Homo sapiens: one gene and its partners. The protein of the gene in region 3 purifies or fractionates together with the protein of the main gene of each other region. This does not show direct contact. Each region holds a gene or a part of one and is shown on either strand. Other genes may lie near its edges.

Region 1 (3,500 bases), on a different chromosome or scaffold from region 3:
CTTTGACCTTGAAATCCCAAGAGTCACTCGAACAATGTGTGTGTACACTTGTGTGCCCATGTGTGCGTGCACACGCATGCTGGAAGTAGAGGCCAGGCCTCTAGAAAAGCAACCTGTGGCAGGGTTGACAGACATGTTCTCTGTGCCTAGTGAGTGAGTGAGCCCTGAGGCCCCTCATCTACCAGTGCAGAGTTTCCTTAAAGCCAAGACTGACTGTGCAGTATTACTTACATAGCACATTAGTGGCCTTGGAAATTTCTAAACTTTTAACATTTTTAACAGCTTTTCATGTGATTCATGTATAACAAAGAGGATCAGGAAAGGAAAATAATGTATTTTATTGTGCTCTTATTACTTTTTTAAGTGATTGTAATATGTGAGGCTCTATTTGGAGAATGTCCCTTATCCCCTGGCCAGCAATATAGGACTCACAGGAAAGAAGGCTGGTTAGCCCACAAAGAGTCTTGCCTCCTCTAGCCAGAGTGCAGGGCTCTGCTCCTAGGAATGGCCATGGAGTGGGCATGCTGCTGCAGGCCAGCAGTCTGCTCTTGGTGTCCTGTGGCATGGCCGCGCCTTGCCTTGAAGGTTGGTGTTTGGTTCATCTTAGCATAGAACATGTGCACATAACTCCTTGCCTGATTATGCACTGAAGGGCAGCACACAGACCACTGACCATGTCAGCCAGCACATTCCCTTAACCTCCCCCACCTCCCATCTTGCAATGTCTTGCATATTGAGATATACCTTCTCAATGTCATGTTCGTGGTGCCTTGCCCATGTAAATTTCAATGTTGACTATTTAATGAGGTTACATATTTAATGCTGAATGTTTCCTGGTCCCTCTATTTGTTATGTCTCTACTTATCTTTTTTTTTCTTTCTCTTTTTCTGTTATGATTTGGATCCAGTCTTCACTTTAACTCTATGGTATAATAAGCATGGACACCTCCACTACCATTATCTTACAGCACTGGTAAACCAAGCACCTCTTCATATCAGATGTTTTTAGTACTGTTTTTATATTCAGATTTGTTAAGGGCAAAAGATGAATGCAAACTAGCCAGAGAAAAGCCTCAGGCTTCCCAGAGACAGGTGGCTAGATTAATTTTTCTCTGGGTGATGGCCAAAGAATGTGAGATAGAGAGGGAAGGGGGTGTTACAGGTTAGAGCAGAATAGAGAAAGAAACTATATTTCTAGGCAAAAAGTACTACATGAGTTGGTCTTCAGAATATTTTTCCAAAAAAATGAAATTCAGTCAGTTTAACATTATCACAAATATTTTTCATTTTAATTGTGGTAGGACCTTTGAATTTGTTCATCAACTGGAAAGAAATCCTACCCTCTGTAGACACATACACACACATTTATATATCTATGTGTTTGAATTGTGACTAGTATAGCACTTTACATTTTCTCAAGTAACAGGAAGTTATTGCCTTCAATATTGATTGGAAATTGTTTTCTATTGAAGTCTATACTGTAGAGTTTTCCATTTATATTGAGAGTTTGAACAATTAAGCTCCTATTGGAACTTTTCCTTAAGCCACATGAGCATGAACAATCTCTGTGACACTTGGGTGCTAGAGAAACACAACAGTGGCTAAAGTAGCCAAGAGCAAGACTGAATGTATAGCAGAGTGCCTTGTTAGAGTGGTAACCTAGTCTTGGAAGCAATTCAGTGGATGTTTCATAAAGAGGACTAGAACTTCAAGAAGCCTCCTGTGCTGGCTGAGGTGAGCCCTTTTGGTATATGTACACTACTGGGTTGCCTAGAAGCCAATTCATGAAGAATAACAGCAGGATGAGAAAAAGAGTCACTGTAACCTGTGGAACAACAACGTAAGAATCACCAACCCCTAGGCTGAGCTAGAACTGGAAGCCAGGAATATGGCAATGAGTTTCAAGATTTGCCCTCAGAAGATGAACTGGGTGAGGTATGGGTTGAGGTGAGGGCACAAGCACTCATCCTACCTACCCTGCTGCTGTTGAGGAGCTAGAAGTAAAACATATTGGTTAGGATTTTAACAGTTGGAGTAGCCTCCCATTATCAGATTAAGTGGGGGTCACTTTTGCTTCCAAACTCAGAATAAGTTTGTAAACATGGGAAAGTCTAAGCCAAGAGATCTAAAGCTCTAGAAATATTAATGACATTTCTGGGAGTAAAACTACTAAAAATTATATCTTAAAAGTTTCTAGTAGTATGAAGTTCCCAGGCCAGGCGCAGTGGCTCACGCCTGTAATCCCAACACTTTAGGAGGGCGAGGTGGGCAGATCACCTGAGGTCAGGAGTTTGAGACCAGCCTGGCCAACATGGTGAAACTCCATCTCTACTAAAAATACAAAAATTAGCCGGGCATGATGGCAGGCACCTGTAATCTAAGCTACTCGGGAGGCTGAGGCAAGAGAATCTCTTGAACCCAGGAGGCAAAGGTTGCAGTGAGCCAAGATCACGCCATCGCACTCCAGCCTGGGAGATTGAGCAACTTCGTCTCAAAAAAAAGTTTCCAGGAAAGATCTTTGGGTCCTACTAAGCGTCTCAATTTTGAGTTATGAATACTTTGGTTCAGGGAAGTAACCTGACATTTGGTTTTGCTGGAATTAGGGTTTTCGCTAGATTTGACTGCAATTAGGATTTCTTCTAGATTTTACCAGCAGTGATCTGAAAAAGTACAGGCTAGTCACAGAAATAGAGATGGATTTAGGATACTACACTATATTTCAAATGATTCTAGATGTGTAAATATAGTATGAACATTCTTGGAGAGGGGTGAGACAAACTGGACTTGCTGGGCCAACCCTGGCATGTTTTTCATTCTCCTCACTAGTTGACAAGGATTGAAAATTCCGCTCCAGCCTAATGAGTGAACAGGATGGCTGCCCACAAAACCAAGTTATTAGCTTTATGTCATCGAAGCTCATATTCTCAAAGGCCCAAAGTGCTGTGCCGAGACAAATCCAAGTGCTGCTCTTGCTGAAGTGCGCACTGAAGTCCAGCTGTCCGTGCTTACAGCAGTGCCAAAAGTGGGGATTCCATGGACCAAAAACGGTGCCATAAGGGAAGCCAGAAGAGTTGCAGTGCAAGATCCTGGGAGAGATTATACCAAAGAAATCAAGCCTTTTTATCCTGATGCTTCTAAGATGATGAGGGTGAGCTGTGACAGATGCTGTGGGAGGGGAGTTCACATACATTCCATGTCAAGGCATTTAGCTGATAAATCCATCCTCAGAAAAGCACCTTTTTAAAAAGAAGTCCATTTTGTATATTAGAAGATGATGATGATGATGAAGATGAAGAAAGCCCTGGCAGATACAAAGTTCCTCAGTATTTAAGGAGAAGGATCTCTTCCATGTCCCCTTGACATGACTGTGGCTATTGCCCAAACCTCAGCTTGAGAACATCATATAATACTGAGAGCGGAAGATTTTTTTAAAGAGATATGGTAGTTTAAATAGGTTTGTTTAAAGAACTCTTGGGAAATTTCTTAACAAATTGTAATTGT
Region 2 (3,141 bases), on a different chromosome or scaffold from region 3:
CTTAACATTTAATATGTCTTGGTTAGTTCAACTCCAAAATAGGAGTCATAGAAACTACCCTCCCTATTTTAAGAGGTAGGGAAAGTTATAAGGATGAAATGAGATAATGGATGATGAACATTTTTACATGTAAAGATGTGTTGACAAGCTGTAAATTTTAAACACATCAAGAAGTATTGTGGTTAGTGGTGGTATTGTTTAAGTAATAGTTTCTCAACCTCCAGTGCACTTTAAAATTATTTAGGAAGCTCAAAATTTCCAATCACCAAAGCCAATTAAATCAGAATTTCTGGATGACAAAGCTGTGGCACTGATCTTGAAAAAACAAAAACAATTTTTTAATTATAATTTCAAACATATACTAAAGTAGAGAGGATAGTATAATGAACCCAATTATTAACCCATGGCCAATATTGTTTCATCTCTACTCTCACCCTGGATTATTTTTGATAACTCACAATGATATTTCTTGGCTTAGGTATGGGTTTGGTTTGGTTTGAGGGGTGATGTTATTAGATGCCTCTGTGCTTGTTTTGTTTGTTTTAATGTACACTCAGATTTAAAAAGCACTGATTTTAATCATAGTTACGGTCAAATGCTATAACCCTTCACTTCTTCTTCTTTCTTTCTTTTATTATTATATTTTTTCCAATTTAGGAAAGTGACAGACCATGTGAAATTTCAGAAATTGATGACAATCCCAAGATATCTGAGGTAAGAACTCTTGGTTATACTCTCTATATACCATTCACACAGTAAACAAGCTAAGTGTTTGAAAGCCTTTCACCAAAAGAAGCACAGTATGAGCACATGTAGAAAAGAGATGACCAAGAGGAAGCTCAAGCACAAAGGAGGTTCTCAGTGCATTTTTATTGGCTGAACAGAAATTCAAGCTCCCTTTAATATTAGACAATCAATTTAATATAATTTATTTTACTGACAAACTAAAATGGAAAACTCATGTGACCATCTCAATAGGGGAAGAAAGTTCAAAAAAACTTAACAGTGATATGAACTCTCAGCAAATTAAAAATAGAATGGGAACTTCCTTGACTTGAAAGATGTCTTTTTCAAAAAATTACAGCTAACATCATACCTAACAGTAAAATGTTGAAAGCATTCTCTTTAGATCAGAAATAAAACAAGGATCTTCACTAACACCACTTCTATTCAATATTATACTTTAGATCCTAGTCAATGAAGTAGGATTTTTAAAAATTAGAAAGTATAGGTCCGGTGCAGTGGCTCACGCCTGTAATCCCAGCATTTTGGGAGGCTGAGGCGGGTGAATCATCTGAGGTCAGGAGTTTGAGACCAGCCTGGCCAACATGGTGAAACCCTGTGTCTACTAAAAATACAAAAAATTAGCTGGGTGTGGTGGCGGTCGTCTGTAATCCCAGCTACTCGGGAGGCTGAGGGAAGAGAATCGCTTGAACCTGGTAGGTGGAGGTTGCAGTGAGCTGAGATCGCACCACTGCACTCCAGCCGGGTGACAAGAGCAAGACTCCATCTCAAAAAAAAAAATTAGAAAGTGTAACACTGAAAAGGAAGAAACAAAATTGTCATTATTTGCAGATGGTATGATTGTCGACATAGAAAAGCTAAATCTGGCTGGGTGCGGTGGCTCACGCCTGTAATCTCAGCACTTTGGGAGGCCAAGGCAGGTGGATCACCTGAGGTCAGGAGTTCTAGACCAGCCTGGCCAACATGGTGAACCCCATCTCTACTAAAAACACAAAAGTTAGCCAGGTGTGGTGGCAGGTGCCTGTAATCCCAGCTACTTCGTGGGGGGCTGAAGCAGGAGAATCACTTGAACCTGGGAGGCAGAGGTTGCAGTGAGCTGAGATCACACCATCACACTCCAGCCTGGGGGACAAGAGTGAGACTTCATCTTAAAAAAAGAAAAAAAAAAGAAAGAAAGGAAGAAAGAAAGAAAGAAAAGAAAAGCTAAATCTACAGAAAAATTACTTGAATTAACAAGAAATTTTAACAAGTTTACTGGATACAAAAATCAATATATAAAAGTAATTTATACTTTCAACATCAACAACAATTAGAAAAAGTGATTTTAAAAATTACCATTTGTGATGGTAATTGGTATTAAAATATGTAGAATGCTATGGAATAAATCTAACAAAAATATGTAATACCTTTATGGAAAATAATAAAACTTTGGTTAAAAAACCCATTAAATAATACCTAAATAATGGGGGTTGCATACTATGCTCCTGGATAGAAAGTGTTAATAACATAACGATGTCAAACAATGTTGATCTATATAACAGATGTAATTTCAATATAAATCCCAATCAATTTTTTTCATGGAACTTAATGAGGTTCTTCTAAAATCTATATGAAATAAAGTAGAAAAAGAGTTAAAAAGACACAACAAACAGGTAGAACAAACAGAAAACAAATAGCAAGATGGTAGATTTAAACCCAACCATATCAATGATCACATTAAATGTAAATGGTCTAGATACCCGAATTAACAGGAAGAGATTTCACATTGGCTATAAAAACAAGGTCCAATCATATGATGCCTACAAAACTCACTTTAAATATAAATACACAAATAGATTAACAGTTAAAAGACAAAAAATGAGAAACTTTGTTAACAATAAACAAAAGATAGTTGAGTGGCCTGAAAGCTCTCCCAAAGCAGTAAGATCAGGTAATTGTGGGTCTCTCCTCATTTGTTTTCTGTCTCTCCAGGACCATTGTCCCTCCTTGCCTGTTGTCTAGTGTCTTGAAAACTATTGCTTCAAATGTTGTGTCTGATTTTGGTTATTTCAGGTGGGAGGGTCAATGTGGTTGCTGTTAGTCCATCTTGTATGAAAGAATTCTCTGCTGTAGTTTTTAAAAAACCTATTTGTTTCCTTAAGAATCCTAGGAGATCACCCACACATGAGAAGAATACGATGGGAGCACAAGAGGCCCACATATATGTGAAGACTGTAGCAGGAAGCGAGGAACCTGTGCATGACCGTTACCGTCCTACTATAGAAATGGAAAGAAGGAGGGGATTGTGGTGGCTTGTGCCCAGACTGAGCCTGGAATGATGCAGCTCAGTCAAGGAGCAGCAGACCTGGCACTGGAACAGGGTTGAAAACCCAGGGTTTTGTACTTGGAGAGGAAAGA
Region 3 (3,500 bases):
TGACTTAATGACCAAATGGTATATAATGTATTATTGGAGAATGTTCTTTTGAATAGAAGACATTGATTTTGTACTTTTTGCAGAGTTTGACTTGGGAAGGTAGGAAGTCACATGAGGGAAGTGCAGGGCTGATGTCTAGAGAAAATAAATGTTAAGATGCACTTATTTTTTAAATGTTTGTATGGCTTTCCTATGGGCATAGAAGAGGACATTTATCTCTTCTGCTATAATGGTATATGATTACATATAATTTTAATACAGCTGTAAATATTGGCAGGCTCTCATTTGGGGTGATTTTCATTTATTTTTATATTTGATACTTTCTGACTGCCTGGAAGTAGTAAAACGTTAGTCTACCACTGTTAGCTTTGAGTGAAGAATTCTAATATTTTGGAGAGGTAAATGCATTTAAAACATTGCACATTACCTTGTGAAACTAACATTGTATTAGTTACATTTAGGCATGGAAATGCAAAAACAAATCTGTAATTCTTCTGTCATATCATTTTTATGCCTCACAAACTCATAGCCAAATAACCCCAATTTCATATGTTAAAAAAGCTTTCATAAGGTCAATAATATAATATCTTGAAAAATATTTCAGTTTAAAAAGAATTTTCAGTACTATAGGATCATTCAGAGGCAGATGCCTTGCCAAAAATATATCATTGTTAAGTAGATTTACTGCTTAATGGGAAGAGATTTGTTGCTGCATGTTAGATGGCATTTTTCATGTAACATCTTTTATGTATCCCCACAACAGGAGGTGTTAATTACAATTCATTCAACAAATATTTCTTGAGCCTGTGTGCCAGGCACCATTCCAAGGTCTGTTAGCAGCCTCATTCTCTAGAGGCAGAGTATATAACAATAGGACTTGTTGTAGCCTCAGGCCAAGATGAATTATGAAAAAAATATTAAACTTGGTCTTTTGGCATGGAATGATTTTTGATACAATACTTGTCAAGTTCTGTGACTTCCATAATTGCAGAGTGGGTCTGCAGTTGAATTGAACAAGATTTTGCCTGAAGTAGAAGTATCATTGCCATGATTTTATTTCAGTTTTGTTTTCCTCAAAATAGAATTTGCTGAACTTTTAGAAGGAAAAAATGTTTCTTCTATAGACCTAATCAAGCTTGTTAAATAAAATTATTACCTGCTTGCTCTGAGGTTCCAAACTATTCAGATACCCCTAATGATCATCTCCCCATGTATTATGAAACTGGTTTGGCTCTGATATATGATTATTGACATTTGTGTAGCATTGTACACAGACTGATTTTATGTGGCATAAAAGATTTCACAAAGACTTTAAAATTATGTCATTTTACTTGATGGGTGTGTGTTCAATTAAAAAAAAAAGTCCCTGTGATTGTATATAAAATATAGTATCCTGTGATGATGAGGGTGTTAGATTTAGTTTCTTCCTTTATAAATGAAAATAGCCATCTCCCATAATTATTATGAAAGCTAAATGAGAAAAATGTATATAATTTATAAAGTTAGATTCAAGGATTTAATTCATTTGTAAAGTTGGCTTCAAATAGAGAGTATTACTATAATCTAGTTGCCTCTAAACCTCAGTAGCCAGCTTTTTATTGTGACAGGGAACCTCTATTGAGGTTTGAGGTAATGAGGGTAAAAGTGTAATTTCCCAGAGAAGAAGCTTGTGATGTTGATGACGTTAGGGATGTAAACAGGATTATGAGGGGGAAAAAAAAAACAGACAACAAAGCTTGCCTCCAGAGAGATGAAAACTACCACTTGGGCTCTAAGTCAGTGTCAAAATATTTTTTGGAGTTAGCCTGACTCTGGAGAGGTCAGTAAAATAAACAGTTGCACTGAGAGGCCAGATTAGCAAGTATGGGTTTCTAAATGATAAACTGCTTTTAGGCTAGAATCAGGGCTGAATCAGCCTTCCCACCACTTATTTGTTTCTAGGGTGTTTGAAAGGCCTAGTACTGAGTTCACGTGGTGCATGATTGTGGGCTGGGGTGTAGGGAAGTATTTTAGATTCTAATATGGGGGTTTGGTGTGAAGGGAAGTATATTAGATTCTAAGAAACTATATTTCAGTGGTTATCCTTTTTTAAAAATAAGTAATAATGAATATTTAGAACCAGAACAGTTTTGTAAGAAGGAAAATACCTAAAATCTGAACTGTAATCTTCTATGTTTTTATGACGTTATGTGAATCAAAGGGGTTTTCCTTTTAAGTAAAAGAAAAGGTCAGGAGTATGAAATCCTAAGCCCTCTTCCTCCCCCTATAAAACCCCACAGGTTCACTTGTAGAAAAAAATTGCAAATGGGGAAGAAAAATGCTTTTAGCTAGAAAAGTTAGTTTTGGATTTGTGTATTCAGTAACAGAACATGTTGAAGTTTTTATTAGATGCAAGAAAATGTCTCTAAAGTAAAATCCTTTGTGTTGACATTAGATTTTTTATTGTATTATAGTAACTTTATTCAAACTTTTTTTTGTTTAGCATTTAGCAGAAGAGAAACCTGATGGCCTTATCAATGAAGCTACTAGGTATTCATATTTAAAGTATATATTGATTGCTGGCTAATTGTAAAGAGAAAAATCACTAAGATGAAAACCAAAAACAAACTAAGAAATTTTAAAACATAGTCAACGAAAATTTATTTTCTTTTTTTCCCTTAGTTGAATTATTGCTATCTATTTATAATGATCTGATAACTAAACTTTTACTTAAAGTCATTTTTGTCGTAGCATAAAGTGAATGCTGAACACAGGATTCTGTAATTTTGAGGAACTCGGGAAATATTAACATTTAAAAATATTTTCTTGTTATACAATTTCTTTGGGATTGAAGATTTTATATATATATATATATGTATAATAATAATAATTATTATTATTATTTTTTGAGACAGAATCTCACTCTGTCACCCAGGCTGAAGTGCAGGCTCACTGCAACCTCCGCCTCCCAGGTTCAAGCGATTCTCCTGCCTCAGCCTCCCAAGTAGCTGGGATTACAGGCACCCGCCACCATGCCCAGCTAATTTTTGCATTTTTTTTTAAATTTTTTTATTTTTATTTTTATTTTTTTTAGTAGAGATGGGGTTTCACCATGTTGGCCAGGCTGGTCTCGAGCTCCTGACCTCAGGTGATCCACCCGCCTCGGCCTCCCAAAGTGCTGGGATTACAGGCATGAATCCACTGTGCCTGGCTGAACTTAAGTATTTTTGTAACTTTTTTCCTTATGAAAATATGGTTATTATAGAAAATATAAATAAGCCAAATAGAAAATAGCCAGATTGGATTTGTGATGTACATACTGTTGAAACCTGCTCTTTCAGTGAACTAAAGTGAATTCAGTTTTGAGAATTTAGTTGTATTCTTTGAGATAAAGCATAAGACCCTGAATAATTGAGGAAAATTGAAAGAATTTCCAGTTTTACTATCCTGTTAATAGAAAATAGAGCTTCTGATTATTATCATCTACTTTGTTATCTAGCATTCAGTCAACTGGATTCTTT
Region 4 (3,500 bases), on a different chromosome or scaffold from region 3:
CTTTTAATCATGTTTAATGTGATCACCTCATCACCTTCAGTGAAAGAGCAAGAAGATGTTTCTTGTTAAGATTTCCCAAGTGGGGAAGAAAGTAAGGATGGTGAGATGGGAGGGAATACAGTGGGAAGGGGGTTGGCGGAAGATAAACAGATGCTTAGTTAGGCTTTGAGTTCCTCAAACATGACGCATGGGAACGTGGGAGCGGAGGCTACATTTAATTCCTGGTTCTCCAGTGTTGGTTGCTAGGCAGAGCAGGAGCACAAATGGCAAGGACTGCTGGGAAGAGTGAGCAGACCAGAAGAATTGCTTACACAGGCAGCATCCAACACCAACAGAGTCCTAGCTCCCTGGGGTATGAGTTACTCTTGGAAGAGAGGAAAAGTCACCTAGTACAGAGTAACCACTGAAATAAAAGGCACCAGGTCCAATAAATATGCGCTAACCGGATCAAGTTTCGAAGCTTATGGGTTTCCTTTAAAAGGCCATTTGTGCTTTCCAGATAGGAAACTGCAGGTGAGCATAGAAAGTGATTTCTCAGAGCCAAGTCACTTTCACATATGTACCCTCACCTAGTTCAGCAGTAACATACAAGCTCAAAATCCTTCCCCACATATGAGCTTTTCTTCTAGACAGGCTGATGTAAGTGATGTTAAAAATCAAGGTATTAACTAAGGATTTAAATATTTGACTCTACTGCCATCTAAGAATTAGGCCTTGGTGCTAATTCTGGAAAGACTGAAAAAAAAAATCTCAGGTAAGCAATCTAATCTTGGCAGTATTTTTGAGGTCTTGGAGACTGATCCCAGGGGCTGTCCACCCTGTGGTGTCCTTGTGCTTCATCCTAAGCTGTCCCAGATGCACTGGGTAGCTCTGGCTTCTGTTGACTCCAAGGCCCCAAATACTGATTTGTAGCTATAAGACTTCTACCTTGCAAAAGTTGTGAGTGAAGGTTTTAGCAGGCACTAGACATACAGTGGTCACTCCGTACACGGCCCTGTGCTTCTGACAGCTGGCGTGCATATCCAAACAGACTCCAGAGTTTGGCCATGCAGAAACCAGTCCTTATATTTATCAGAACAAGCTTTATGGGAATGAATTCCAGGCTTGTAAAATTTGGCAGCACAGATGGCCACTCACTCTCTCTGCATAGAATATTTAGCCAGTTCTGAAGGTAATTATCTGCCTTGGTTTTGTAACTAAAGACTACCAGCAAAGGAATCAGGGAAGTTGGGAAGAGGATTATTTTAAGATGTCCTAGCATATAGGCAGGAAATTGTATATTCAAGAATCAAATTGTTGGGGCATCTAACAAACATACCTATTGCTCCCATGTCATCAACGTAGGGACTTTTGGCTCCCACAATCCCCCCGAAGCATTCTTTCTGGGGGGCACAGTAGGGTTTGTCCAGGTGAGTCTTTCCATCACTGTCCACCATGCACCATTCACAATCCAGCACCCCAAAACAGTCCCTGCCAGAAAAACAATACTTAGTCTTCTATAAAGCAGTGTGGGGCAGGGGACAGCACTTAAGTGTGGGCATCAGACAGTTCTCAGGATCTCCATTACTTACTAGTGCTGTGAATTTCTTGAGCTTTAGTTTCCTTTCCTTATAAAATGAGAATAGCAATAGACTGCCAGGGAAATAACTGTTTTATGCCTCTTAACAACTTGGAAAGGAGAGAAATAAAACTGCTCTCTGTGAATTAAATAATGACATCCACACATCATGGGGCTATTCAAAATCATCTTACAAGACCAAACAGAAATGACCCCAATGTTTGTTAGACTCTGGCTTAACATCCCCCAAGTGTGGGGTCATTTAAAAAAATAAAAAAAAAAGTCCAATAAGTTTGGAAATACTTGGCCAGTCACCACAGGTTTCCTCACTGCCAATTTCTCAGAGCCTTTAGTGTATTACATGCATTGTGACTGTCTCAAGAGAATATATGCAGTGTCAGCATTTCCCAAACTTAATTGACTTGGGGCTACTGTATAACATCCCAAATTAATCAGTTTGATGCCACAATTCCTTTGCTAAAATACACACGCAAAGCAGAGTAAGCTATCCCTCTAAACACTGTTTAATAAAATGGCAAGCTACAGCTACAATAAGCTAAAAACCAACTCCCCTTTACTTAGTCTACCACAGCCACTATTTCCATAATGTCTAGTCCCAAACTCCTAATCCCACCTGAGGAGTGGGGAGAGAGCGGGGAACATGTAGTTTTTAGTTCTCAAAACTATCATGAAGCAGATGTGTTTCCTAAGAAAGGAAAATAAATGAGCTTCAAAATATCACACCTAGAGCCTTGACCACTGGGTTCTGCTTCTGGACCTCAGGGGTTCCTCCTCCCTTGCCCTGCTGCTTCATGCCATGGCCCCTCACAAGTCTTTTATTTCAAGAAAAACTCCCATTCACAGATGAGGCTACTAACATATGGTACACACGCTAAATACGGGTAATAAGTGGGAACGAGACAACATTTAATCTGGTGGGTAAAGGCTTATGGAAATCAGTTTCAGATCTGAAAAACTGACATACCTTTTTAAAACACGAAGAGTAGGAATAATAAATATTAGCTGGAAAACCTCAATTCTTTACTAGATTCTGCTTACCCACTTTCCAGCCTCTGACTGCACCTGCTGTTGACACACTGGTGAAGAGCATCTTGCAGGCCAGGGTCAATAGCTGTGTATGTCACCGGCTCCTGGTGGACCTCGCAGCTGGGGTTTCTGTGCAGGAGGTAAGTCTGGAGGTTAAGACGACCACCGCCCACATTCCAAACTCATGCTCCTGGTCCTTAACAGCAGTCAGACAGATTTGGGTTTGAATCCTGGCTTTGCCACTTAGTGTGTAACCTTGTATCAATCACTTAACAACTCTGAGCTTCAATTTACTTATCTTTATATACAGTAGAAGTAATACAAATAACCTAGGCAACATGATGAAACCTCATCTCTACGAAAAGTACTACTACAGCAACAAAATTTAGACAGGCTTGGGAATCACATGCCTGCAGTCCCAGCTACGAGGGAGGTAGAAAGGTGGGAGGATTGCTTGAGCTTTGGAGGTAGAGGTTGCAGTGAGCCATGATCGCGCCACTGCACTCCATCCTGAGCAACAGAGTGAGACCATGTCTCAACAAACAATTATACACACACAATACAAACACACATGACACTCTTAATTTCTAGAGAAGGGGTTTATTACAATTTATTTTCCTGGTGTTAAAATCTGTCACTGATATAAATAATGCTGTAGAACACATCATACGTGTGTAAAAAACACTTGCATATTTATCACAGGGTTAATTAGAACACTAAGTGACTTAATGTGCATAACGTACTCAACACATGGTAGACACTTAGTAAATGCTTGAAACATTCTCACATTTTTTTGTATGTAGCACATACACTCTTAATACTTTTACAGCAGTTAAATTTAAACCTTGAAACAGGCATCATTTTATGGCACTACGGAGCTTGAATTCTGGCTCAC
Region 5 (3,500 bases), on a different chromosome or scaffold from region 3:
GGGAGACGGAGGCACGAGAATCATTGAACCCAGGAGGCAGAGGTTATAGTGAGCTGAGATCGTGCCACTGTACTCTAGCCTGGGTGACAGAGTGAGACTCAAACAAACAAAAAATACATATATGTGTGTGTATACACACACATGCACACACACACAGGCACACAAATACAAATACAGTATATTATTTGGCAATAAAAAGGAATGAGGCAGGGTCCAGTGACTCATGCCTATAATCCCAGTACGCTGGGAGGCCAAGTTGGGAGGACTGTCGAGCCCAGGAGTTTGAGACCAGCCTGGGCAACATGGCCATGGCAAGGCCCCATCTCTCTACAAGAAATAGAAATAAAAAAATTAGCAGGGCATGTCTGTGGTCCCAGCTACTCAGGAGGCTGAGGCAGGAGGATCACTTAAGCCCAGGAAGTCAAGGCTGCAGTGAGCTGTGTTTGCACCACTGCACGCTAGCCTGAGCAGCAGAGACCCTGTCTCAAAAAATTAAAAAATGAAATTTTTTTAAAAAAGGAATAAAATGTTGGTACATCCTACATCATAGATAAACCTTGAAAACATCAGGTTAAGTAAAAGAAGGCAGGCCAGGCCCAGTGGCTTATGTCTGTAATCTCAGCACTTTGGGAGGCCAAAGCAGGCTGATCACCTGAGGTCGGGAGTTCGAGACCAGCCTGACCAACATGAAGAAACCCCGTCTGTACTAAAAACACAAAAGTAGCCGGGCATCGGCCGAGTGCGGTGGCTCATGCCTGTAATCCCAGCACTTTGGGAGGCCAAGATGGGCAGATCACGAGGTCAGGAGATCGAGACCATCCTGACTAACACGGTGAAACCTCGTCTCTACTAAAAATACAAAAAAATTAGCCAGGTGTGGTGGTGGGTGCTTGTAGTCCCAGCTACTCGGGAGGCTGACGCAGGAAAATGGTGTGAACCCGGGAGGCGGAGGTTGCAGTGAGCCGAGATCACGCCACTGCACTCCAGCCTGGGCGACAGAGTGGGACTCTGTCTCAAAAAAAAAAAAAAAATTAGCTGGGCGTGGTGGCGCATGCCTGTAATCCCAGCTACTCAGGAGGCTGAGGCATAAGAACTGCTTGAACCCAGGAGGCAGAGGTTGCAGTGAGCCGAGATCGCGCCATTGCAATCCAGCCTGGGAAACAAGAGTGAAACTCTGTCTCAAAAAAAAAAAGAGAAAAAAAGAAGCCAAACACACAAAGCCATAAATTGTATGATTCCATTTATATGAAATCCTCAGAATAGGCAAATCCATAGAGACAAATGTTGCCACGAGTTGTGGGCAAGAGGGAATGGTGAGTGACTGTTATAGGGTACTGGGTTTCTTTTTGGTTTGATGCAAATATTCTTCTATGTTTAAACTGATACATAGAATTACTGATTTTCCTAAAATGACAACAGAACCCACATATTTGTAACTGCACTTTCAGTCTTCTCTCCAAAACCAGTATCTCATGTGTGCATATCACTCACCTGGTCCTTTGGCTTTTGTTCTTTGATTAGGGGCTGCAGAGGCTTCACTGGTTCATTCTTTTCCCCAGTGACAATGTCAGAGGACCACATGGGAATCAGGTTTTCAGGCTGGGCACTGGATTTAGTGTTGTCCTGCAGCATCTCCTCTTCCACTTGAGAAATACTGCATATACCTCCTAACTCATTAGAGGCATCCAAATATCTTGGCTGATTCTCCTGAACAAAGCCATCACTCACTGAATCCCTCCCTTTTGCAGGTAAGATGTCAATATTTACGCTACTGATTGTGGCTAGTTCTGTGGTATTGCTCAAGTCCTGTTTGCAGGTATGGGCTTTCAGACTGGCAGGTGACTTCAAGAGACCAGAGGCCCTGGGTTTCTCCTGGGACAAACATTTGCCTTCACCCTGAATGAAAAGATGTTTGGAAATTATTATAGCACTCCTCATATCTTATACAAAATCAACTCAAAATGCAACAAGAGGTTCCTCAAAAAGTTAAACATAGAATTAACATATGACTCAGCAATTCCACTCCTAAGTATGTAATCCAAGGAACTGAAAGCAGGGATTTAAGTTAAGTATTTGTACACCAATGTTTACAGCAGCTTTATTTAAAATAGTCAAAAGGCGGAAACAACCCAAAAGTCCATCAGCAGATGAAGGGATAAACAAAATGTGGTAAATACTGCCAGGCACGGTGGCTCACACCTGTAATCCCAGCAGTTTGGGAGGCCAAAGCAAGTGAACCACTTGAGGCCAGGAGCTTGAGACCAGCCTGGGCAACATGGTGAAATCCCATCTCTACTAAAAATACAAAAATTAGCCAGGTGTGGTGGTGCATGTCTGTAGTCCCAGTTACCTGGGAGGCTGATGCGGGAGGATTGCTTGAGCCTAGGAGGCGGAGGTTGTAGTGAGCCGAGAGCCCGCCACTGCACTCCAGCCTGGGCAACAGGAGTGAAACCCTGCCTCAAAAAAAAAAAAAAAAAATATATATATATATATACACACACACACACACACACAATGGAATATTTCTAATCTATAAAAAGGAATGAAGTTCTGATACATGCTAAAACACGAATGAACCCTGAAAACATGCTAAGTAAAATAAGCCAGGCCAAGTGTGGTGGCTCACACCTATCATCCCAGCACTTGAGCTCAGGAGTTTGAGACCAGCCTAGGCAACATGGCGAAACCCCATTTCTATAAAAAATACCAAAAAATTAGCTGGGCATGGTGGCAAGTGCCTGTAGTCCCAGCTACTTGGAAGCCTGAGTGGGAGGATTGCTTGAGCCGGGAGGTCAAGGCTGCAGTGAGCCGTGATCACACCACTGCACTCCAGCCTGGTTGACACAGTTGAGATCCTGTCTCAGAAAAGAAAAGAAGTAAGCCAGGACAGGGCAGGGAGCAAGCAGGGGCAGGACTGGCACTGTGGCCAGAGATGCCGCTGGGCCACAAAGGTGATAGGCAGCTGGGAACTCTACATTGAAGGCACAGAGGTGAGGCACAATGCCCGGAAGGCTGGTAAATTGAATGCTGAGGACGGAAGAGTCTGATGACATACTACTGAATTTCTTTGTTTGGAGTACACATTATGTACTCTTTCTGGAGCATGTCTACAAGCTCTACATGGAAACGATCTGAAGCTGAAAACATTGGCAGGGGATGCAAAAACCAGTCTTTGATGAACTATGCCAAAGAAACAGCTGCCTTCTATTCCCAAAAATGCTTTGCCCATAACTAAGCCTACGGAGCCTGTCCCAGCAGCACAGTCAACAAATGGCATGCATGCTTCCTACAGACTCGTCCACCTGAAATACTCTCTTCTTGCTGAATTTACCTTGGTTGCGGAGCAGACGTTATTAGGTGTCTATGTGCAGCCATCTTATCCCTCTGTATTAAAGTGGTTTGGACTAATATTCATAGGGCACAGACTTTATCAAGATGGCATATTTAGGCCAGGCGCGGTGGCTCACACCTATAATCCCAGCACTTTGAGAGTCCGAGGC
Region 6 (3,500 bases), on a different chromosome or scaffold from region 3:
TGACAATTTCAACTCTCCACTCAAAGGATAACCCTTCCAATTCTTAGTCTCTGTTCCATCTGCTGGGACAGTTCATTGGAATGTGGCCAAAGGATAAAAATAGGTAGTTCTGCCTCTGAATATCAGCAAACAGTTGCAGTATAAAGTCTCTCTTGCTCCATTAAGGACCTTTCACTTAGGCGCCTCAACAATCTCTGTAGCCCCTTTTGATCAGCTTAATCTGGAAGCCAGAACCTTTCCCTTCCTTGTATTTTCCATTCAGGTACACACCAAAATAACAGAACTTTAAAAATTAAAAATAAAATGATTATATATCTTCCCTCACCATCAATAAAACTAATTGTAAGGATTGTTTCTCAGGATGAGAAGGAGAAATGAATAGAGTTTGGCAAATGAGTACAAACTTATAGTTAGATAGAAGAAAAAAGTTCTAATGTTCCATAGCAGACCAGGGTGACTATAATTAGCAATAATACATCACATATTTCAAAGTAGCTAGAAAAGAGGAGTTCCAATGTTACCAACATATAAATTATCAAGGTGATGGAAACCCCAAACACCCTCACTTGATCATTACACATTGTATGCATGTATAAAGTACTCACATGTACCCCATAAATATGTAAAATATTAGGTATCAATAAAAGAAAAAATCATACTAAAAAGGATTGTTTCTCTCCAGATTGACTAATTTTACAATGTTGTGCACTATCATTCATTCAATAAATATTTAAACTAAGCACCTACAATGTGCCAAGCATTGGGCTAAGCACTAGAGACCATTTTTAATAAGAGACATGATTCTTGCCTTCAGAGTTTATAGTCTAAGGAAGGACTTCATATATTACAGATTAGGTGCTTCTCAACATCAATAAAATAGATACTCTGGTCAGACCATGACTGAGCAGGCTGATCTTTAACAATTTTACTCTTTTGAGCATGGAGAGCGGAGGTATCTGATTTCTACTTCCTGAAGATTGCGGTTTTGTGTTTACTCACTAAGAAAGGGAACCACCTTTTAATTTTCTGTTTCAAAGCATTATACAATAATACCATATGTCCTCCTAGAGTAGATACTTTATAGGAGCTGTGTGTATCCTACAAATAAATCTAGTGACAGAAAAAGGTAATTTCCATGGCAGCAGTCCTTTGGGAAAAAAAAAAAGAAAAAGAACTTCAGTTTGTGTTGCCTATGGGCCTTAGTATTCCAGGATACAGACTTATAATAGTAAGATTCAGGCATTCCCATTTTTCTTGTGGAAGAATTGGCTTTTAAAAAAAATGGGTTTGTTATGAGGATTAAATTATATACTGTATGCAAAATACATTAAGTATAAAGTAGTATTCAAACATTAATTTTAAACTAACTCTAGAAGTCATTCTGATAGTTGTCATGTGCTATCCCCTACTCCTACTTCAGACCTAAGGTCACATCTAAAGCTCAGGGCTCTTCATAAATAGTAATCTTACACATCACTTCAAATGAATTTGTATCGTTAACCGGACTTCAACTTTCTCTTATACCACAAAAGCTTCAATTAGGTGATCAAGGGAAAGTGGTGAAAATAGGGAGATTACAACTCCCTTAATTTTTTAGCCTCTTCCACCATCTATCACCTCTTTTCCCCTTTGAAAGTATAAACCCTCACTGTGTTAATTTGAGGAGACCAAATTATGATACAAGGTTGAGAAGATAAGTAGTAGTGCCAGGCCAGAACCAGAATGGAAAAGGATAAGAATAACGAGAAGAGAGGAGCTATAAACTCTGGATTTTTGTTGTTGTTACTGTGTTTCACTTAACTCTTCCCGTGTGCTCTTTTATTCCACCTAAGTTCTCATGTTCGGCATTCTATTTAAATGCAAACTGGCAGAATCAATGTCAGGTACCAATCAAATAACTACCTAACACAAAAGCCCTCACCACACATAATAATAGAATTGTAATAATGAATTTGATAGTTTGCTATAGCTCAGTAATAATTTTCCACAGAGATAACTTGGTTTAGGTGGTTTCTATTTGCTAAGTCAGTCCTGCTCTATCCTCTCGTGTGAGAGACAACACTGTTTACACATCAAGGTGGCTTGGATACCAGCACTTTTAGTGGAATCCAAAAATACAGCAGCTTGCTCTGGAGTATCTTAAAATGTCAAGAATCCAGAATCCAGAGAGGTAAATTTAAATTGGGACTCTGCCATGACACGTGTTTACCTATGTAACAAACCTTCACGTGTACCTCCAAACCAAAAATAAAAGTTAAGAAAAATAATAAATAAGTAAAGACTCTGACCAATGAAACAAACCTTGGCAAAATCCATGGGTGCACAAAGGCAGGCACTGCTATTTCCTAGGTATACTTGTGATTTAATATGTAATATAAAAGAATGAAAGAGTGCTAAGCAGACTGTTATTCTCCAGCTATTGTTTTAGAAGAATACACCTGCTAGGAAGTGCACTTCTGAGCACAGGTAGCAAATACCTTCTGTGGTTCTGTGGCTGTTTTTAGTCTTTGAACTTTGAAAGAGGTTTTCCACCTTGCTGAAAAAGGCAGCTGAATATACAGACTAACTGATCCACACACTAGCCCCAGAAGCTAAAGATAATTAGTTGTGGACCTTAAAGGAATTTAATAATAGGTTTTTCCTTTTTAATTTGATTTTCATGAAAGTCTATGTTTATGGAAGAAACTGTTGCTACAGTTACACAACTATTTTATCAGCCTGAAAATAGAGTTGCATAAAGAGTTGGAAAGTGTGGACAGTGTAACAACAAATGTTAGAGGTCAAATAGAACTTCTGTAGGCTTAATAAATTTGTATAATTACTTCTATTATTTTTTCCAAATACAAAAGTAATATGCCTTCAAGTAGAAAACAGCACCAGGCACGGTGGCTCATGCCTGTAATCCCAGCACTTTGGGAGGCCGAGGCAGGCGGATCACTTCAGTTAGGGAGTTCAAGACCAGCTGACCAACATGGTGAAACCCCGTCTCTACTAAAAATACAAAATTAGCCAGGCATGGTGGCGCATGCCTGTAATCCCAGCTACTCGGGAGGCTGAGGTAGGAGAATCACTTGAATCCGGGAGGCGGAGGTTGCAGTGAGCCAAGATCACACCATTGCACTCCAGCCTGGGCAACAAGAGTGAAACTCCATCCAAAAAAAAAAAAAAAACCCAGAAAACATAGAATCCTTCGGGCCAGGCGTGGTGGCTCATGCCTGTAATCCCAGCATTTTGGGAGCCCGAGGCAGGTGAATCACAAGGTCAAGGGATGGAGACCATCCTGGCTGCCAACATGGTAAAACCCCGTCTCTACTAAAACTACAAAAATTAGCTGGGTATGGTGGCGCACACCTGTAGTCCCAGCTACTCGGGAGGCTGAGGCAGGAAAATTGCTTGAACCCAGGAGGCGGAGGTTGCAGTGAGCCGAGATCGCGCCACTGCACTCCAGCCTGGCGACAGAGCAAAACTCCATCTAATAAAAAAAAAAATAGAATCCTTTG
Region 7 (3,500 bases), on a different chromosome or scaffold from region 3:
AGAGGATCTCAATCTCCCCAAACTCTACAAGCTGTGACTAGTCTCCAAAGTGACACTTCCAGGCAACTCTCAGCTTAAAGCCCCAGCTAAGCACATGCACAATGGCCACTGTCAAACCAGTCAGCCTGGGCTGCTGGCGGCGGCAGTGACCAAAAGGCAGAGCTCACATGCGGGGTCCGAGTCACAGTGCTGCTGGATAACAGCCACAATGGGAGGCTTAGTGCCTGCTCACACGCTCCCACCCACTTTTCTTCTCCAAGAAGTCTGTGTGATTAAGACCTTTACAATTTGAAAAAGGAAGGGACTAGGTGACTTGGGGATTGATCTCTGACCAACAAAGGTTAAGTGCCATGAAGAAGATGAGCTGCTCGCCTCACAAAATCAGAGTGAATTTCGGAAAGTACAAACACACATGCGTACAGACCACTGAAAGCAGCAGGTTCTTCCAACAGACAAGCCATAAAGCCCACGGGTCATGAAATCACCAAGGCTCTGACAGGGCAGGGCTGTCAGCCTGGCCCAAATGTGGACCTGGGAACACCCTTCCTCCTTGGCTAGCAACACTCACAGCAAAGAAATCCCTGAACTCTACAAGCACCCACCCCTTCTATGTGGACTTAGCCCCCTTTCTGTTTGTTTGTTTTTTAGACAGGGTCGCGCTCTGTTGCCCAGGCTGGAATGCAGTGGTGCAATCATGACTTACTGCAATCTCCACCTCCCGGGCTCAAGCAATCCCCCAACCTCAGTCCCGAGTAGCTGGGACTACAGGTGCACGCCACCAAGCTGGGCTAATTTTTGTATTTTTTGTAGAGATGAGGTTTCACCATGTTGCCCAGGCTGGTCTCAAACTCCTGGGCTCAAGTAATCCTCCTGCCTCGGCCTCCCGCAGTGCTGGGATTACAGGCGTGAGTCACCGCGCCTGGCCCGAGCCCCATTTCTGACTGGCAGCAAGAGGCCTTTCTGAAAGCTGCAGCTCAGGGCATGAAGCATTGAGGTTGAGAGCCCCTGGCACCCACAGGGGATGGGGGGCGGCATGTCACACACCTGTATACATCGTGCTTGGTGTCGAAGAGCCGGCTCTTCTCCCTGATGCGCTCTGGAGGGAGGTAGGCGATTGTGCCAAACAGGCCATCCATGCTGAGGTCATGCGAGTGGGACAGCCCGTTGCACTTGGCCAGACCAAAATCAGAAATCTGCAACACAGCCATCAGAGCGGGGCTCATTAGCCTGCAACAGTGATATTTTATGATGCTTTATCAAAAGCTCCCTTCTGCAATCTCAGAGGGTGGGTGAGAGCTTTCCAGGAGCCCCTAAGAGCCGTGTCTGTGCCTCTCCAGGTAGCCCTGCCCCAGGCAGGGAGGGAGACAGATTCTGGGGCAGAAGCAAGCCTGGAGGCATTAGGAGCAGCACATTTGACGGGCAGGTGAAAGAATCGTACTGTAAGGAAGGAGTTATCCGGGACAGAACTGCAGAAGAATTAGAATCCACCTTCTGTAAAGCATCATGTTTGCCATGGTGGTTGAGAGCCGGCTGAGCCGGCATAAAGGGAAAAAAACAAGCCTTCGAGGGTTCAGGTAAAGAGAGACACATGTGAAGACCAGGTCTGCTCCTAGAGAAGTCGGGGAGCAGGTTATGCAACCTGCCAGCTGGGGAGGCTGGCGGGCAAGTGGCTGCAAGTCCTTTAAAGGGAAACACAGAAACACACCTTCAGAAGCCCTTTAAACTTTAAAGCAAACAAAACACACGCCTCAGAGCCCCGTCCATCTGGAGTGTTTTGTGATCAGCAGACACTGGCTGGCTGCTTCAAACACATGTGTTCGAGTGAAGGTCTGATAAACACCTCTGCTGGCAGCGCCCGGGCCCCAAGGAGCACCGGCCACCCAGCTCCTCCAGGAATGCCCTCAACGTCCGCATTCAGGGGAGGCAGGTCTCAGGTCTCCTTCGGGCAAAGGTGACCTTGGAGCTCACTGGGGAGACTTCACAGACCCCCGGTCTGACCTCTCTCGGGGGCATCCCCTTTCCTGCCAGTGTCCTACCCTCTCCAGTGTAACTCAGTCCCCTTTGAAGCTGCTGAAAACCGTATGTGGGATGAAGACACAAGTCATCAGCATTAATGGGACTCTTGATCCAGGGGGAGTGCTGCTCTCAACTTTCCTTCAAGGCATATGGATTTTTTTAAAAACCCTTTTCATTAACTCTTGAGCTCCTCTCAAACACACCCATGGAGTGACAGGAAATGAGGCTGAGTCAGGCCTTAATTCTGGGCTGGCCATGCCCATGTGGTGAGCCAATAGGGCTGCTGTCATCAGCACCAAACAGCTGGGAGAATTTATGACCTGTGACTCGGGCTTCCAGGGATCCTGAGCACATCTGCAGGGAGGTAGGGGGGAAGGCCTGCGAGCAGGGACCGGCCCTCCTTCTCTGCAGCCAGGAGCACCAGGACAAGGCCTCGACTCCAGCGGCTCTCATGTCCTCCCACTTCCATTTCTCCCAGGGCCTTCAGGCCTGCACCGCCCTTGAGAGCCACACTCTGCACTCCAGGGAAAGCGCCAGCTCCCCAGAGGAACGCCATCACCCGACCCTGCAAACCCCGGCGGCTGCTGGACGCTGGGACACAACAACGGGTCCTAACTCTCCAAATAGCTCCAGAGCACAGGAAGTTTCAGTTCAACAGTCATCAGTGGCTTGAAAGCCTTCAAATTCAGAAATGGGCTGAACAATGAGAACACATGGACAGAGGGAGGGGAACATCACACGCCGGGCCCTGTCGGTGCGTAGGGGAAGAGGGAAGGGAGAGCATTAGGACAAACACCTAATGCATGCGGGTCTTAAAACCTAGGTGATAACCTAGATGGTGGATGGGTGCAGCAAACCACCATGGCACATATAAACCTATGTAACAAACTGGCACATTCTGCACATGTATCCCGGAACTAAAAGTAAAATAAAAAATAATAATAAAAATAAAGAAAGCATCACATACTTTCTAGGCAATTCCTCCTCCCCCTGTATGGTTGAATGTAGGAAAAAAATATCTCCCTCCCACGGTTAGTTAAGGATCAGACTCACTGTTCTAATCTTGCCTGTACAAGTTAGTAGCTCCGTGGCCCTGGACTATTAGCCTCTCTGTGCCTGTTTCCTTTTTTCATAAAAGGAGGCAATAGCAGTACCCATCCTGTAGCTTTGTTGTGAAAATTAAATGACATCTGAGATCATTAAGAAAGAAAAGAAAAGAAAAGAAAAACGACAGGGGTGCAGAGATCTCAGCCTGGTGCTTCCCCAGGCCTGCAGCCTTTTCTCCTCCTGTCTTTGTCAGATAGAGCCAGCCACTCCAAACTATACTTGGTGAAAAGAAAACGAGCAGAAATTCTCTGTAAAACCTCTGGCAACAAAATGCAAGCTCGGAATTGAGAATTCTAGGAGGGTCACTGACCCTCTATGTTCTCCTCCCTCCATGTCTCGGACTCCTGGCCGGCTGCATTTCCCCTCCGCCTTTCCTC

Evidence for each region.
Region 1: the proteins of ZNG1B (region 3) and PEAK1 purify together in Homo sapiens (affinity purification with mass spectrometry; one large-scale study listed by BioGRID and IntAct). This does not show direct contact.
Region 2: the proteins of ZNG1B (region 3) and OPALIN purify together in Homo sapiens (co-immunoprecipitation; one large-scale study listed by IntAct). This does not show direct contact.
Region 4: the proteins of ZNG1B (region 3) and CACHD1 purify together in Homo sapiens (affinity purification with mass spectrometry; one large-scale study listed by BioGRID and IntAct). This does not show direct contact.
Region 5: the proteins of ZNG1B (region 3) and NEK4 purify together in Homo sapiens (affinity purification with mass spectrometry; 2 studies listed by BioGRID and IntAct, with this or other methods). This does not show direct contact.
Region 6: the proteins of ZNG1B (region 3) and MORC4 purify together in Homo sapiens (affinity purification with mass spectrometry, with the first as the bait; one large-scale study listed by BioGRID). This does not show direct contact.
Region 7: the proteins of ZNG1B (region 3) and RIPK4 purify together in Homo sapiens (affinity purification with mass spectrometry, with the first as the bait; one large-scale study listed by BioGRID). This does not show direct contact.

What each region holds. Positions count from the first base shown.
Region 1 is NC_000015.10:77,109,105-77,112,604, reverse strand, and holds part of PEAK1 (inactive tyrosine-protein kinase PEAK1), read left to right. Parts: 3' UTR 1-3,500. UniProt on the Homo sapiens protein: Probable catalytically inactive kinase. Scaffolding protein that regulates the cytoskeleton to control cell spreading and migration by modulating focal adhesion dynamics. Acts as a scaffold for mediating EGFR signaling.
Region 2 is NC_000010.11:96,345,862-96,349,002, reverse strand, and holds part of OPALIN (opalin), read left to right. Parts: intron 1-657; coding exon 658-714; intron 715-2,885; coding exon 2,886-3,062; 3' UTR 3,063-3,141. UniProt on the Homo sapiens protein: Central nervous system-specific myelin protein that increase myelin genes expression during oligodendrocyte differentiation. Promotes oligodendrocyte terminal differentiation.
Region 3 is NC_000002.12:113,458,191-113,461,690, forward strand, and holds part of ZNG1B (zinc-regulated GTPase metalloprotein activator 1B), read left to right. Parts: intron 1-2,482; coding exon 2,483-2,529; intron 2,530-3,500. UniProt on the Homo sapiens protein: Zinc chaperone that directly transfers zinc cofactor to target metalloproteins, thereby activating them.
Region 4 is NC_000001.11:64,676,129-64,679,628, reverse strand, and holds part of CACHD1 (VWFA and cache domain-containing protein 1 isoform 1 precursor), read right to left. Parts: intron 2,735-3,500; coding exon 2,618-2,734; intron 1,471-2,617; coding exon 1,319-1,470; intron 35-1,318; coding exon 1-34. UniProt on the Homo sapiens protein: May regulate voltage-dependent calcium channels.
Region 5 is NC_000003.12:52,750,441-52,753,940, forward strand, and holds part of NEK4 (serine/threonine-protein kinase Nek4), read right to left. Parts: intron 3,459-3,500; exon of another isoform or gene 3,086-3,458; intron 1,897-3,085; coding exon 1,492-1,896; intron 1-1,491. UniProt on the Homo sapiens protein: Protein kinase that seems to act exclusively upon threonine residues. Required for normal entry into proliferative arrest after a limited number of cell divisions, also called replicative senescence.
Region 6 is NC_000023.11:106,986,713-106,990,212, forward strand, and holds part of MORC4 (MORC family CW-type zinc finger protein 4), read right to left. Parts: intron 1-3,500. UniProt on the Homo sapiens protein: Histone methylation reader which binds to non-methylated (H3K4me0), monomethylated (H3K4me1), dimethylated (H3K4me2) and trimethylated (H3K4me3) 'Lys-4' on histone H3. The order of binding preference is H3K4me3 > H3K4me2 > H3K4me1 > H3K4me0.
Region 7 is NC_000021.9:41,750,053-41,753,552, forward strand, and holds part of RIPK4 (receptor-interacting serine/threonine-protein kinase 4), read right to left. Parts: intron 1,194-3,500; coding exon 1,045-1,193; intron 1-1,044.